Linked DNA regions of Homo sapiens: region 2 is linked to region 1. Evidence: fine-mapped expression QTL. Tissue or cell type: whole blood. Region 1 holds a variant in brackets; the other region holds the start of a gene. All regions are shown on one strand. Distances are between the middles of the regions.

Evidence for each region. PIP is the estimated chance that this variant, and not a neighbour inherited with it, causes the effect.
Region 2: it holds the start of CTSL, and the variant in region 1 is fine-mapped to the expression of CTSL in whole blood (TOPMed, PIP above 0.99).

Annotation. Positions count from the first base shown.
Region 1 is chr9:87,836,530-87,844,381 of GRCh38, reverse strand. It overlaps the pseudogene FBP2P1. Among named protein-coding and RNA genes, the nearest start is that of SPATA31E1, 42 kb to the left of the region's middle. The variant A/C (reference allele first, on the strand shown) is at 4,005.
Region 2 is chr9:87,721,788-87,729,639 of GRCh38, reverse strand. It overlaps CTSL (cathepsin L), which reads right to left and starts at 3,521. Exons shown (of 8, transcript NM_001912.5): 1 at 3,242-3,521; 2 at 1,911-2,046; 3 at 1,491-1,613; 4 at 1,244-1,390; 5 at 831-1,055; 6 at 1-67. The coding sequence starts at 2,036. RefSeq lists promoters at 2,204-2,624, 2,204-3,243, 3,448-3,658, 3,497-3,678, 2,036-3,678 and 7 more, cis regulatory regions at 2,625-2,858, 2,859-3,004, 3,580-3,581, 3,604-3,607, 3,618-3,621 and 12 more and enhancers at 3,209-3,730, 7,145-7,194.

The DNA.
Region 1 (7,852 bases):
GCATTAGGTTATTGGTAAGAGCTGGCATCTAGAAGCTACTTTCTGGCCGTATGATCCCAATAGCAAGGTCCATCTCTCTGGGGTTCCCCTGGACAGTTTCAGATGCCACCAACCATGCCATATAATCTCTTGTGCTTTGCCTTCCACTTGGTCCATTGTTCATCTAAACTGTGGTCACGTGTTACAGCAGCTGAGGCAATAGGCAGCCAGGAAGAGTGAAGGGTTCATGTTTCAAAAATCTGGGAAGGGAAAAGAAATGAGGATCTGATTAGACTAATCCGAAAAAGTCATCTTACTGCCCCCTGAGAAACTAGGGCCACCATGATAGAATAAAAATATTTAAATTATTCTCCCATGCATTTACCTAAGGACTGTGGAAGAGGCCAAGGATCTGGTTGGAGAAAAACAAGGCAAGTGGAAGTATTGGATGGACTCACCAAAATGAAAAGCAGCCTGTCCAGAGCTGTAGGAGCTGAAACAGTTTTATGGGATGATAATTTAGGCTATGAAAAGGATAGGAAGGTACCTTATGGGCGAGAAGTTAAAGGCAACAACCAGGAAACTAGGAAACCGTTGGCCCAGGTTTTGTACCAATTGTGCTGAGGTCATCCAGGCAAAACCTCACTAATGAAGACATCTAATTTCAAGAAGGGACAAAGGGATCCCCAATAATTGGGAAGTCACTTCACACTTTGTTCTTGGCTAATGCATAGCAGAAGGTGAAGTATGTTTTCCAAACACCCCTTGTAACGGAAACAGTTCTTGAATGTCTTCCCAGGAGAAACTGGGAAGGAGAGCACCTATCTACCGCCGCTCCCGCAGTCCTGCAGTCCTGCAGGGGCCAGTCCTGCCAACACTCCAACTCCCCTCATAGAGCATAAACCCAATCAGGTGGCCGAACCGCCAGAAGCCAGAGTCCCCAGTGTCCGCGCCCACACAGGGGTAGGCAGCTTCCCAGGCTTTGGGCTGGGGACCCAGGCCAGGTCCCCTGCCTCTTGCTTCCACCCCCCGCTCATGCTCACTGTGGCCCCAGGAGGTGGGTGGTGGTGCAGGGAGCAAGCGGCGCCTCTGCCTGATTTGCCCGGGTCGAGCCTCCCTGTCCCACCCCACCAGCCCTGGGAATACTGCGGCCTGGCACTCCTGAAAATCCCTCACTCACCGAGCTGAAGGACTTGCTGGGTCCCTGGTGGCCCCTGTCCAATCTCAGCCCACTGGGGTCTCAGCTGCAGTAGCCACAGGTGGACAGGCACAGTGGGCAGGTGCCGAGTCCAGGAGTCTCCCGTCGCCTAAGGCCGCCCGAAAGCAGCTAATTGACTTCTTAAGGCTGGGCGGGACCTTCCGGCGGGCTGACTCCTAGCCTGTGGAGCGGCTCAGTCCACTTGCCTCAGTGGAACCGGGGGGAGGGGAGCTGGGGGCTACGAAGAGAAGGGTCGGAGGTCTCCCTGGAGGGTTCGGATCAACTAAGTACCTTATTTAATGCCCTGGGCCGGTGGTTCATGAAAAGAAGTTTACAGGAGCCCTGTGTGCATTTTCAGCCTAACCCTGCTTTTCCTTTAGGCCTAGAATTGTTTATTAAAATCTCCTGCAGGGCCGAGAGCCAGAGGACTCTAGCCCAGTGGTTCCTGTTTAGTCCACAGCAAAGAAGGGGCCGGTTGGAAGAACTCACAGCCCGCAGGCAGAAGCCTTATCTCCCAATTAAGGGTATAGAAGAATCTGGGCATGTTGCTGGTGGCTCATGCCTGTAATCCTAGCACTTTGGGAGGCTGAGGCAGGCAGATCACTTGAGCCCAGTAGTTCGAGACCAGCGTGGGCACCCTGGCGAAACCCCGTCTCTACTAAAAATACAAAAATTAGCCGAGTGCGGTGGCCTGCGCCTGTGGTCCCAGCTAGTCGGGAGGCTGAGGCACGAGCATCCCTTGAACCCGGAAGATCGAGGCTATAGTGAGCCGAGATCGCACCACTGCACTCCAGCCTGGGCGAGAGGAGACCCTGTCTCAAAAACAAAACAAAACAAAAAACAGCAAACAAAATACAACTGGTAGGAAAACGCACCCTCAAAACACATGATGAGATGGTCAAGACCAGACCCTAGGAGGGTGGGGACTGGCTGGGTGGGTATCCAGAGACCATGGGCGCTTCATAATGCATTGTTTCCAGTCTCCTCCACTCAGCGATTCTTCTTCCCCTGAAGTCTTGCATTAAGTAAGTGAATGAATCAATCATCAAGAGTTAATGAAGCTCTGACTTTGTACATATTGTCCTTTGCTTGGTACAGTTGGGGACTGCCTTAGAAACAATCTCCAGGTAACTTTTCCAACTGCTTTTGTGAGGCCCAGTTTTCCATTTTAAAATCTAAGATTAACTCAGTAATCTTGCTTTTACAGCAAGTGGGCATGGAGCCTGACGGATATATTTAAACTAAGTTATGGACAAGCTGCTTGGTGCATTAGATAGCACAGGAGATAACCTTGTGGGACATCCCACATTCGTAATATCCACCCCTAAGTCTATAATCAATAAATGCTTGTTTGGAGGCCATAGAAACTCTTCTCGAGATCTGACCTGTGTCTTCTGCCATCTACCTGATTTCTCCCCATAGAGTAGGAAAACACTGTGTAGGAGATACTGTGAATAGAAATATGAATATAGGCTGGGTGTGGTGGCTCACGTCTGTAATCCCAGCACTTTGGGAGGCCAAGGTGGGCGGATCACCTGAGTTCAGGAGTTTGAGACCAGCCTGGCCAACATGGCGAAACCCCGTCTCTACTAAAAATACAAAAATTAGCCAGGTGTGGTGGTGGGCGCCTGTAATCCCAGCTACTCAGGAGGCTGAGGTATGAGAATTGCTTGAACCCTGGGAGGTGGAAGTTGCAGTGAGTGAGATGGCACCATTGCACTCCAGCCTGGGCAACAGAGTGAGACTGTCTCAAAAAGAAAAAAAAAAAATTACAAAAATTAGCCAGGCACGGTGGTGGGCGCCTGTAATCCCAGCTACTCAGGAGGCTGAGGCAGGAACAACTGCTCAAACGTGGGAGGCAGAAGTTGCAGTGAACCAAGATCACACCACTGCACTCCAGCCTGGGCAACAAGATCAAAACTCCATCTCAAAACAAACAAACAAACAAATAAATAAACAAGAAGATGGATATGTTGATAGAAAAATAAAAGACATGAAATATACAACCTACAAAATAAAAATGATCAATAAACTCTAAAAAGTTTACCTCACTCATAAAAATAGAAATTAAAACAAAAAAGAGGTCTTTTTTCCACCAAACTGATGAAGTTGAAAAGACAATACTATCTTGTGTTTGCCAGAATAAATTAAAAAGAACCCTCTTATCACTGACGGTAAAAGTATAAATTTATGCAACCTTTCTGGAGGAAAACTTCAATATGTATAAAAAGATTTTTTACCCAGTAATTTAATTATTTGGAATTTCTGTTGAGAAAACAATCAGAGAATCATGTATTTATGACCTAGATTGTTAATCTCAGGTTGTTTTGTTTTTCAAAAAGTTAGGAGCCATCAAAAGGATAGTAAGGGAATATTATAAACAACTCTACACACATAAAATTGATAACTTAGATGAAATGGACTAACTTCTCAGAAAGCACAGTACTCTAACTCACCCAATATAAAATAGATAATTTGAAAGACTAGGTTCAGGGCTCAACTATTAGAAAATAGAATTCAAAAAAGAAATCTCCAGGCCCGGATGGTTTCACTAGAAAATTATACTAAATGTTCAAAGGTTATTCAATCTCTTCCAGAAAAGAGAAGAGGAAGGAACATTTTTCAATTCATTTTATAAAGTCAGCATTACTCTGATACAAAAACCAGACAATGATAGTAAAACTGACCCAATAATCTCATAGACTGTTCTTTCGGATAAACATAGAAACTGACCTTTCTGTTCTTAAAGCTTGAAGCTTACATTTGTTTTATATGAATTCCTTCCTCAGGAAAGGAACTTCAGACCTCTCAAAAAGAGTATTAGAGA[A/C]CTGAAAGTCACCAGATCACCACATCCTGACAATGAGAAGCCTGGAGCCCTCATTCCTCATTATTGCTTCCTTTCCCCTCTCTAGTTCCTGTATTCTTGCACATTGTCACATTTCTTCTCTGTTATATAAACCTCTAGTTTTAGTCTGTCAGGGAGATGGATTTGAAACTGAGCTCCCCCATCTTCTCAGCTGCAGCACCCAATTAAAGCCTTCTTCCTTTGCAGTACTTATTGTCTTAGTGATTGGCTTTTTGTGTGGTAAGCAGCAAGGCCTAGACCAAACCCCTGGTGTTTTGGTAACAATAGTTCCAAAAAAACAAAAACAAAAGACTACTACAGACCGGCTGGGTGCGGTGGCTCACGCCTGTATTCCCAGCACTTTGGGAGGCCGAGGTGGGTGGATCACGAGGGCAGGAATTCAAGACCAGCCTGGCCAGTATGGTGAAACCCCATCTCTACTAAAAATACAAAAATTAGCCAGGCGTGGTGGTGAGTGCCTGTAATCCCAGCTACTTGGGAGGCTGAGGCAGGAGAATCGCTTGAACCCAGGAGGCGGAGGTTGCAGTGAGTCGAGACCGCACCACTGCACACCAGCCCGACAACAGAGCGAGACTCCATCTCAAAAAAAAAAAAAAAAAAAAGAATACCAAAGACCAAGATCCCTCATCAATAAATGAAAAAACCCTTAACAAAGTATTGAGAAGTAGAATTCAACAACACATAAGACAAATTATACACCATGACTGAGTGGGATTTATTCTGGTAATAGAAGGCTGGTCCGGTATTCAAAATCAGTCAGTGTAATCCACCATATCAACAGGCTAAAGAAGAAAAATCATATAATTATATCAATTGATGGAGAAAAACCACTTGAACAAATTCAAAACTCATTCATGACTTAAAAAAGAAACTCGCTGAAGTGGGAGGATCACTTGAGGCCAGAAGTTTGGGACCAGCCTGTGCAAAGTAAAAAGACCCTATCTAAAAAAAAAAAAAAAATTAGCCGGGTGCAGTGGCTCACATCTTAATCCCGGCACTTTGGGAGACCAAGGCGGGTGGATCACGAGATCAGAAGATTGAGACCATCCTGGCTAACACAGTGAAACCCCGTCTGTACTAAAAATACAAAAAATTAGCTGGGCATGGTGGCACACGCCTATCGTCCCAGCTACTTGGGAGGCTGAGGCAGGAGAATCACTTGAACCCAGGAGGCAGAGGTTGCAGTAAGCCGACATTGCGTGACTTCACTCCAGCCTGGGCAACAGAGCAAGACTCCATCCCCACCCCCCCCAAAAAAAAAATTAGCTGGAGAGGTGGGTGGTGGTGCATGTCTGTGGTCCCAGCTACTTGGGAGGCTGAGATGGGAGGATCGCTTGAGCCTAGGAGTTGGAGGCTGCAGCGAGCCATGATCACACCCCTGCACTCCAGGCAGAGCAACAGAGTAAGACCCTGTCTCTGAAAAAAAGAAAATCTTAGAAAACAAGAAATAGAGGAGGAGCTTACCTCAACCCTATCAAGTACATCTACAAAAATTTATAGCTAGCATTAGTATTTAATGGTGAAAGAGTGAATGCTTATCCTCTAAGATCAGGAGCAAAGCAAGGATGTCCTCCTTCACTACTGTTACTCAACATATGTAACCCTGGAAGTCATAGTCAGCACACTAAGGCAAAAAAAATAATGGAAGGGAAAAAGATTGGAAAGCAGGTAATAACATTGTCGTTCTTTGCAGATGTCATGATGATCTGTATAGGAAATCCCAAGGAATTTACAAACAAAAAACCAAAACACTCCCTAGAATGAGTGAGTTCAGCAAAGTCACAGGACACAAGATCAACATACAAAACCAACTGGATTTCTATATATTAGCAATAAACTAATTCATAATAGTAATTAAATTTAAAATATGTACTTTAATCACTTAAAAAATGAAATAGTATTATATAAATCTAAAAAACGTTTGTAGGATTCTTATGCTGAAAAGCACTACATGTATGCATGTATATATTTATGTGTGTGTATAAACTTGCATATATATGTATCTGTGTGTTTGTCTGTATTAATTAAATGCAATGATCATGGCCCAGATTGTGTTACATGGTGGGAAAACAGACATGAACAAGACGGAGTGGGTACCTCCCTTCAGGTTGCTTACAGTGTAGCTTGGAAGTCAGACACTAAACCCAAGAATGAAAATGTGTTGGGAGCTTCAAAGAAGTAGCCCTGGATGCTCATGGCATCAAGCACCTGGAATACCAAATCATGAGGTCAGAGCATAGGGGTGAGACCATTCAGATTTACAAGGCTTCTAACTCTACATCACCAGAATGTCCTCTAATTCTAGATATCTGGAGGAGAGAGGCTGATTGGGCCATTCTAGGTCAGGACTCTCTCTCCTACCCCATCAAGAGTGTGTGTGTGTGTGTGTGTGTGTGTGTGTGTGTGTGTGTCTGTGTGTTTGTGTGGTGGGAGGCGTGACTCAATATAAACGTAGCAGCTAAGAGTTCTAATTTTGGATAAGGGGGTGAGGAAGAACCATTTGCACTGGCTGGATGCACCAAAGGCTAGAAAAAAACTAGAAAGAGGACCAAGATTTAAAGAACCAGAGGAAGAGGAGCTGTGGGGAAGAGAAGCAAATGAGGAGCATCCACAGAGTCAGAGAGAAAGCAGAGTCAGGGCTTCCTGCTGTTGAGTGAGTTGTGCAGCTGTTCCAACTGCAGTAGATTGTTCATCTCAGGTTGTTTTTTTCTCAGAGTTCTCCCACTGAGCCATGAAGGTGACAGTGCTATGTGCCTCAGATAGCTGTTGAGTGTGCAGAGTGAGACGCTGCACCCTCCGCTCAGTGATCTGAGTTGTGACTATCATGGCTCAGGAGTGCAGCTTACGATTTTAGCATCTGGGAGTGCTTTTCTTGGCAGGCTGCAGACACATGCGTTTGGAAAATAGGAAGAAATCCAAAAATGGCCTTTGCCATAGCTCAGCTAGAATTGTCGGTAACGTGGCAACTCATTTTCTCTGGATAGATTTGTGGCAGCTTAAAATTCTAAGAACTGCACTTTCTTCAGTGGTTCAAGGAGATCTGAATCCCATGCCTCTGACAAAGGGTTCTCTCCTGAAACAATAACACACCGTGTTTCTCTCCTTTCTTCCACAGACCTCAGAGGACAAGCCTTCTGAAAGGGATGCCCTGCAGCCTGGCTGCAACATTGTGACCATAGTTTATACACTGTACAGTAGCACAACCCTGGTGGCTCTCTCCACAGGGCAAGGGGTGGACCTCTTCATGCTTGACTTGGTAGGTACAGAATATGGCAGCCTCTGGGCTTGGGGACTTGATGGGCCTCTGTGCTTTAATGCTAGTCCCCTGGGATAATTTCCTGGTCATTCCTAATACTTGTTTTTGGGGCCAGAGAGTCTGAAAACCTAGTTTTGGGAGCCAACGCCATCATCAGAAACCATGAAGGGCCTTTGTCCCAGTGAGGGAACCCGGGGTAGGGGTGTCCTGCAGAGTCAGTTGCATCAACTCAAGCCCTGTCCTTAAGGAGTTCATTTTTCAAAAATGCACTCGATCTCTTTGGTTTATGAGAACTCCATGATTTAAGAATCGTAATGCTGCGAATTTCCAGACAGAAGCATGAATGCTTTAGAGCAGCATCATCCCATAGAATGCTCTGTGAGTTTTGCTTTTAAATGCTGGATGCCTTGTTTATCACTTGTGAAATGCTTTGCCAAATACACTGAGGTCTTGTGAAAACTCAGATAATGTTGACCAATGACGACTTCAAAACCCCTTGTGTTCACTTAGATGAAAGGTCTGTATTTAAATTTAATTTAGATTTACAGATGTT
Region 2 (7,852 bases), 110 kb after region 1:
TAGGGATGTCCACAAAGCCGGTGTCATTAGCAACAGAATACTTGGGATTGTACTTACAGGATTCTTCCTTTCAAAGGTAAAGGGAAAAAAAAGACTTGATTACTGCTGTCCTCCTCCTGGAGAACATGAGTTAGAACCACAACACTCAGCAGTGTGCAGCTTAGTATTTCCAAGTCACCACTGTTATAAATCATCCCAGGAAGTGAAATGCTATTAGTTAATCTGAAACTGAAAATTGACTCCAGTCTCTTCAATGAGACCTCTGGGTTTACTTCCATAAGACATTTTTCACAATAGAGAAATGTGTATATTTAGAATGGCTTGTATATTCTTCACGTTACATAGAAGCAAGAACAGCTATATGTTACCCATCTAATCACAGGATTGTGCAAAGGCTAATAATTTATAATGACAGTACTGACAATTTGCAGATATATATTCTGCCATCTAATATGTGAACTTTTTTTTTTTTTTGGAGACAGGGTCTCATTCTGTCACTCAGACTGGAGAGTGCATTTGCACAACCACCTCCCACACTCAAGCAATCGCCCTACCTCAGCATAGCTGGGACCACAGACGCACACCACCACAGCCGGCTAATTTTCGTTGTATTTTTGATAGAGTCAAGGTTTCACCTTGTTGCCCAGGCTGGTCTCAAACTCCTGAGCTTAAGCCATCTGCCTGGCTCAGCCTCCTAAAGGGCTGGGATTACAGGCGTGAGCCACCCCACCCAGCCCTAATATATGAATTCCGAAAAAGGTATCTGTTATCTCTTAAAGTGTCCACCTTCCAAAAGCTGAGCTGGAATGATGACAAGGAGCTCCACTTACTGTTGCCTCATATGGATAGGATTCCTCAGAGTCCAGGCCTCCATTATCCTGAACATACTGGAAAGCATAATCCATTAGGCCACCATTGCAGCCTTCATTGCCTTGAGGCCCAGAGCAGTCTACCAGATTCTGCTCACTCAGTGAGATAAGCCTCCCAGTTTTCCGGAACATCTGTCCTTCAAGAGCACCAGTAGCACTAAAAGCCCAACAAGAACCACACTGACCCTGAAAAGGGAATTAAAAAAAGCTGTCATCCACAAAAAAAAAATAATAAGACTTTGACAACAGCTCACACATCTGAATACTGTTAAAAAGTGAACTGTACATCACTTTAAAGTCTACCAAAACAAAGATGTCAATCACTTCTTGGCTTTCCTGGGAAGATGGGAGGTCTGAACCTGACACTGTCTCACCTGATTCTTCACAGGAGTCACGTAGCCTTTCTCTCTCCAATCCACAGATCTGGGGGCCTCATAAAACAGAGGTTCCTGGAACACTTTCCCCTTCCTGGGCTTACGGTTTTGAAAGCCATTCATCACCTGCCTGAATTCTTCACTGGTCTTCAAGGAAAAGGAAATAAAATGTTGAAAAGCAAGAGATTACCTTAGTAAAGAACCGAAGAGAGGAAGCACAGAGCTCGGCAGTCCACAGCACACTTACCATGTCTCCAAAGGCGTTCATGGCCATTGTGAAGCTGTGTTTCCCTTCCCTGTATTCCTGATTGTGCAGTTCAATCATCTTCATGTTCTTCTCCCACACTGCTCTCCTCCATCCTTCTTCATTCTAGAGGCAAACATGTAACTGATGCTCTTTACTTCTACCTAAAACCCAACTCATCCTCACCAAGTGAATCTGCAGACAGAGATGGAAGAGAAACCATGGCAAGGGAAGGCTTGACACCTCTGGGGATGCTGTTCTCCAAACTGAGACACAACAAGGATGAATGTCCACATTGTGCTCATAATCCACGCCATTAGGTTATTACATTAGGCTATTGGTAAAAGCTGGCCTCTAGAAGCTACTCTCTGACTAAAACTTCTCAACAGCCAGGACTATTCTTTCTGGGGAAGTTTCACTAACCATGCCGTATAATCTGTTGTGCATCGCCTTCCACTTGGTCCACTGTGCCTCTAAACTGTGATCAAATGTTAGAGTAGCTGAGGCAATTCCCAGGCAAAAGGCAGCAAGGATGAGTGTAGGATTCATGTTTTAAAACCTAGGAAGGGAACAAAAATGAGGATCTGATTAGACCAATCCTAAAAAGCCATCTTACTGCCCCCTGAAAAATTAGGGCCACCATGGTAGAATAAAAATATTTAAATTATTCTCCCAAGCATTTACCCAAGGACTGTGGAAGAGGCCAAGGATGTGCCTGGAGAAAAACAGGGCACGTGGAGGTACTGGATGGACTCACCAAAATGAAAAGCAGCCTGTCCAGAGCTGTAGGAGCTGAAACAGTTTATGCGATGACAATTTAGGTTATGAGAACGGTATGAAACTACCTTGTGTGTGAGAAGCTTAAGGCAACAACTAGGAAACCGGGAAACGGTTGATCCAGGTTTTGTACCAATCGCAAAAAATCCAGGTTTCGTGCCCAGGCAAAACCTCACTAATGATAAGGTGGGATTCCCAAGTAGGGACAAAGAGATCCCCAAGAGTTAGGAGGCCTTCACACATCTTCCTGACTAACAAACACCAAAAGCTGAGATAAGTTTTCCAATCTCTCCTATTTATTTATTTATTTATTTATTTATTTATTTATTTATTTTTTGAGATGGAGTCTTGCTCTGTGGCCCAGGCTGGAGTTCAACGGCGCGATATCGGCTCACAGCAACCTCTGCCTCCCGGGTTCAAGCCATTCTTCCTCAGCCTCTTGAATAGCTGGAACTACAGGCGTGCGCCGCCTCGCCCGTCTAATTTTGTATTTTCAGTAGAGACGGGGTTTCACCATGTTGGCCAGGCTGGTCTCGAACTACTGACCTCAGGTGATCCGCCCACCTCAGCCTCCCAAAGTGCTGGGATTACAGGAGTGAGCCACCGCGCCGCCCCAACCTCTCCTTAAATGAAACCTTTCTGAAATGCTTTCCCAGGAAAAACTGGGAAGGAGAGCACGCACTGCTCCCTCCTTCATTCACTTGGGCCTGTGCTGCCGACACCCCAAACTGCTCCCCTAAATCAGGGACGGGGTCATATGGCCGCACGCGGGAAGCCAGCGCCCTGCAGCCAGCTTCCAGGGCTCCAGGCGTGGCAGGGCCGGGGACATGACGCCTGCGCCACACACTGGCTGTAGCGGTCAGAGGATGTTTGCGGTGACGCCAGCAGGAGTACCGCTGTCTGGCGTGCGGGGACTGAGCTTCCCTGTCTGGCCGGGCCAGGCCCTGAGTCGGCGCGGCGCGGCCTGGCTGCGGTACCTGTGTCCACCCGGCTCGGAGGCTGGCCTGCCCGCTCAACCAGTCACGCGCCTCCGCGGGGTCCTCAACTGCCCTCCCCGGCTTCCCCACCTCAAGGCCAGCAGAGTTCGGGGTAGACGCTCTCGTTGCCAGGGCTGGTGCACACCTACTCGACCGCGTCCTCTCTTCCAGTCCCTGTCCGGCCACAGCTGGGCCTGGCCGGCGGCGCTTTCCTGCTGCGGTCGTAGCTGCGCAGGCGCACTCCACGGATGCCGCTCAAGGTTGCGGAGGTCGCGGTTCTGGCCCAGCTTCGCCTGACTCTGCTTCTAAAACCTCGGGTCTGGGTTCGGCCGGCACCGCCCCGCCGCCTGGCTGCGCTGCGATTGGCTGTGCCGGCAGCTGGGCGGGGACTCTGGGTGCTCTGATCCCTGGCGCGGTTCGTGGCTTGTTTACTGACTGTCCCAGAGCTGGGCGTGCCTGCCTCAGTGGACCTGGAGGAAGCAGAGCTGGTGCCCCGGGGCGGCGCAGAGTAGGGTCGGGCGTCTCCCTGGAGCGCTCGAGTCAACTAAGTACACGACTTACTGCACTGGGCGAGTGGCTCCTGAAAAGACGTTTACCGCAAGCCCTGTGTGGACTGTTTCAGCCTAACCTTGCTATTCCTTAGTCCTGGAATTTTTGGTCCGCAGAGCCGAGAGTCAAGTGTACTCTAGTCCAGTGGCTCCTGTTTAGTCCACAGCAAACGTGGGGCCGGGTGGACGAACGCAGAGCCCGCGGGCAGAAGCCTTATCTCCCACTTAAGGGTGGGTGCAGCTGGGCTTTAGAAGAATCTGGTAAGGAAAGGCATCCCCAAAACACGAGATGCTATCGTCAAGACCAGACCCTAGGAGGGAGGAGACTGGCTGCGTCTCCAGAGAGCGCGGGCGTTTTGTCAAGCATCCTTTCCAGACTCCTCCATTCAGGGATTCTTCCTTCTCCCACGTCTTACCCAAAACCAACAGAAATGAGTTATTTACAGAAACATTTGGTTGACAGGAGAAAAGCAGTTGAGAACATTAGAAGCTGCTTTTATTCGCCCACTCTCTAGGCTATGGATTATATCTTCCTTGGTAACCAAGTCGTTCTCTTGAGATTTAAGAAATTTAATGACATTTAATGTCAGGATTTAAGATACAGAGAATGGAGAAATGTTGTAGATAGAGGAAAAATATGTATCTTAATCTGTATAATGTAGATATTAATTTATGTAATTAAGGATTTAAGGAACAAAACCCACAAACATTCTAAACTTTTGTCATTTCATTTTTTATTACATAAAAACATTCATTGTAGAAAATACCTTTCGGGGAAAAAAATAATTACCTCTGCCTTTACCCCATAACCTTTTCGTATGCATATTTTGACTTTGTTAAAAATGAACAAAGTCCATTGATTTCTATTGAAGATTAAACTGATAACTCTTTTAGAAGCACAATCACCTATAGTTTTTTAAGTGGTAAAATATACCTCACATAGCAAGTACCATTTTAACCAACTTTGAGTTCAGTAGCATTAAGTACCTTCACATTGTGTAACCATTACTACTGTTTATTCCCAGAGCTTGTTTATCTTCCTAAACTGAAACTGTATCCATTGAATAATAGTTCCCCATTCCCCCTCTCCTAGCTCAGGTATCTACCATTATATTTCCTGTCTGCAGGAATTTGTTTACTATTTTGGAGATTATTCCTCTTTTTTTTTTTTTGAGACGGAGTCTGGCTCTGTTGTTCAGGCTGGAGTGCAGTGGCGCAATCGCAGCTCACTGCAATGTCTGCCTCCTGGGTTCAAGTGATTCCTCTGCCTCAGCCTCCAGAGGAGCTGGGACTACAGGCGCGCACCACCACGCCTGGCTAATTTTTGTATTTTTAGTAGAGATGGGGTTTCACCATATTGACCAGACTGGTCTTGAACTCCTGACCTCGTGATTCGCCTGCCTTGGCCTCCCAGAGTGCTGGAATTACAGGTGTGAGCCACCGTGCCCGGCCGATTATTCCTCTTTTTATGCATTGCTTCTCTGGAGAACCAGTCACAATGTGTAGAATACAATCTAACTGTGATATCTGTCCTAGTCTCTTTTCTGTTGCTAATAACAGAATACCTGGAACTGTGTAATTTATGAGAACAACATTTATTTCTTACAGTTTTCGAGGCTGGGAAGTCTGAGGTCCAGGAAGTGTATCTTGTGAGGGCCTTCTTGCTTGTGGGGATTCTTTGCAGAGGCCCAAGGTGGTGTAGGGCATCACAGGGCGAGAGGGCTGAGTGTCCTAGCTCAGGTCTCTTCCTCTTCTTTTAAAGCCATCAGTCCTGCCTGGGCGCAGTGGCCCACACCTGTAATCCCAGCACTTTGGGAGGCCGAGGCAGTCAGATCACTTGAGGTCAGGAGTTTGAGACCAGCTTGGCCAACAGGGTGAAATCCTGTCTCTACTAAAATACAAAAATTAGCCAGGCGTGGTGGTGCACACCTGTAATCCCAGGTACTTGGGAGGCTGAGGCGGGAGAATCACTTGAACCTGGGAGGTGGAGGTTGCAATGAGCCGAGCCGAGATCACGCCACTGCACTCCAACCTGGGTGACAGAGCGAGACTCCATCTCAAAAAAAAAAAAAAAAAAAAAAAAAGCCATCAGTCCCATTCCCAAGATAACCTGTTGGTCTATGAACCCATTATTCCATGAATAGATTAATGTATTCATTAGGGAAGAGCTCATATGTCCTAATCACCTCTTAAAGGCCCCACATTTTAATGCTGCCACATTGGAGATAAGTTCCAACAAGAGTTTTGGAGGGGGCAAACAAGGAAACCATAGCAGTATTTAAATTTATTATTTTATGAAATAAAAACAATATTTCTGTGGTGTTAGGTAACTGGAGTACCTACGTCTGCCTTGGTTCTAACTTTGCAGATTTCAGGATCACAAGAAGTTCATTGGAACAGCTGAATGTTTCTACCGGGGGCTTAGAGCTCACTTGGTCCTTCATGAGTTCCTTACTGGGGAGTGTGAGAGAAACTGCTCAGATGGCCTCCCCTTCCCCAAATTTGAAAGAGAAAGAGAGAGAGTTGTGAGTGAGTGGCTTTGCTCTCCAGCACTTGCTTAGTGAAGAGCCTCAGAATCTGGACTGTGGCCTCCCAGTTCTGAGGAACCCCATTCGCCACCAGGAGGGGTGGCATGTTCACCCCGTTATTCAGGAAGGAATTGGAAAACAAACAATCGAGGGTGTGAGGTCAAGAGCTAGAAAATCGCAAGCCTCTGGCACCTGAGCCAGGGCAGATGCTGGGAGCACCTGCAGGATACTCCCATATTCTGCCACCTTGGTACTTATCAGCCTCTGAGAACTGAAGCCGGACCCTTTCTTTGCTTGAGCAGAAGATCAGACCAAAGAGCTCATTGACTCAAGGAGCATCATGGCAACTGGGCTGTACCCGGAGGGGAAGAATCCAGGGTCTGATCCACAACCAAGGCCTGAAGAAGTGGGGCCTGTACTTGACCTACCCAGGGTGAGTCATGACCCAAGTGCTGGGGCTCTAGCCATGGGTGGTCCTTCCAACCATTTCCAGCTTCCTCCTGCAGAGGGGCTGGTGTTTTTCTTCATTTTCCATAACCTCCTTGGGAGCACAGGCTTTGGTTTCTGCCTTCCCTGGATCAGGTCTCCCACAATGCAGTTGCTCTAACAAAAACTATTAGCAACAACATAGTACCACAGAAGCCAGCTCCTTGCTAGCAGTGATTGCTGATGATATTGTCTTCTAGAGACCATTCTAATGACTAGACAGCCTCGGTGCAGGAGGAGCTGTTGTCGGTCATGAGGAGCATTTCCTTGTCTATGTAGAGGAACTGAAACCGATGTGGCCAGCAAAATTTACCCAAAGCAATCACTGGGATACTCATCACACCCTCATGGCCCATTGTATCACTTTTGTTCCCTATATATGTGGTCCCATTTCCTCAGGACCAGTACTCCCTTATGTGGGGAGCAGGACTGATGCCTTGAGTTACTTATAGTGACTCGTTAGTTGGGGGATTTGCTAGTATTTTCATCAAACTTGAATCTAGTGAAACATTTGATTGAACTGGCTTCCAAATTGAAAATAAACCAACACCACTCAGGAAACCTATTTACAGCGAGAAGTCAGGAGTGGGAATGCATCTTGCACTGTCACCTTGATTAACAATAGCTCTGACCTGTGGGAGGACGGTCCTCTCTCCTGTAACAAACATAGGGTAGTGATGGGCCAGGTCCTGCTGCTCCTACATTCTCATCACTTAGATAAGCACAGGCAGGTGACTGCAAGCCTTCCAGCCTCCACCAGCATCCTCCAGTTCTCCCCTGACCGCTCTCATTCATATTCCGCACTGATTCAGAGGTCCAGTCCTGAGTGGCAAAAAGAAACATGCGTGAGCCTTTCTAGAAATCAATCAATCATTCATGGATTATAGTGAATTCTTCCCTACTAAACACATCTCCAGAAATTCAGGCGTAGTAACTCCCTTCCTGAATGTCTTTCCAAGGCCCTAAGTGACATTGATGTTCCATAGACAATGTCTTACACGGCAAAGTGCTTCTGGGGGTGGGAACCTGCTGACCTTCCCTGGAATCCT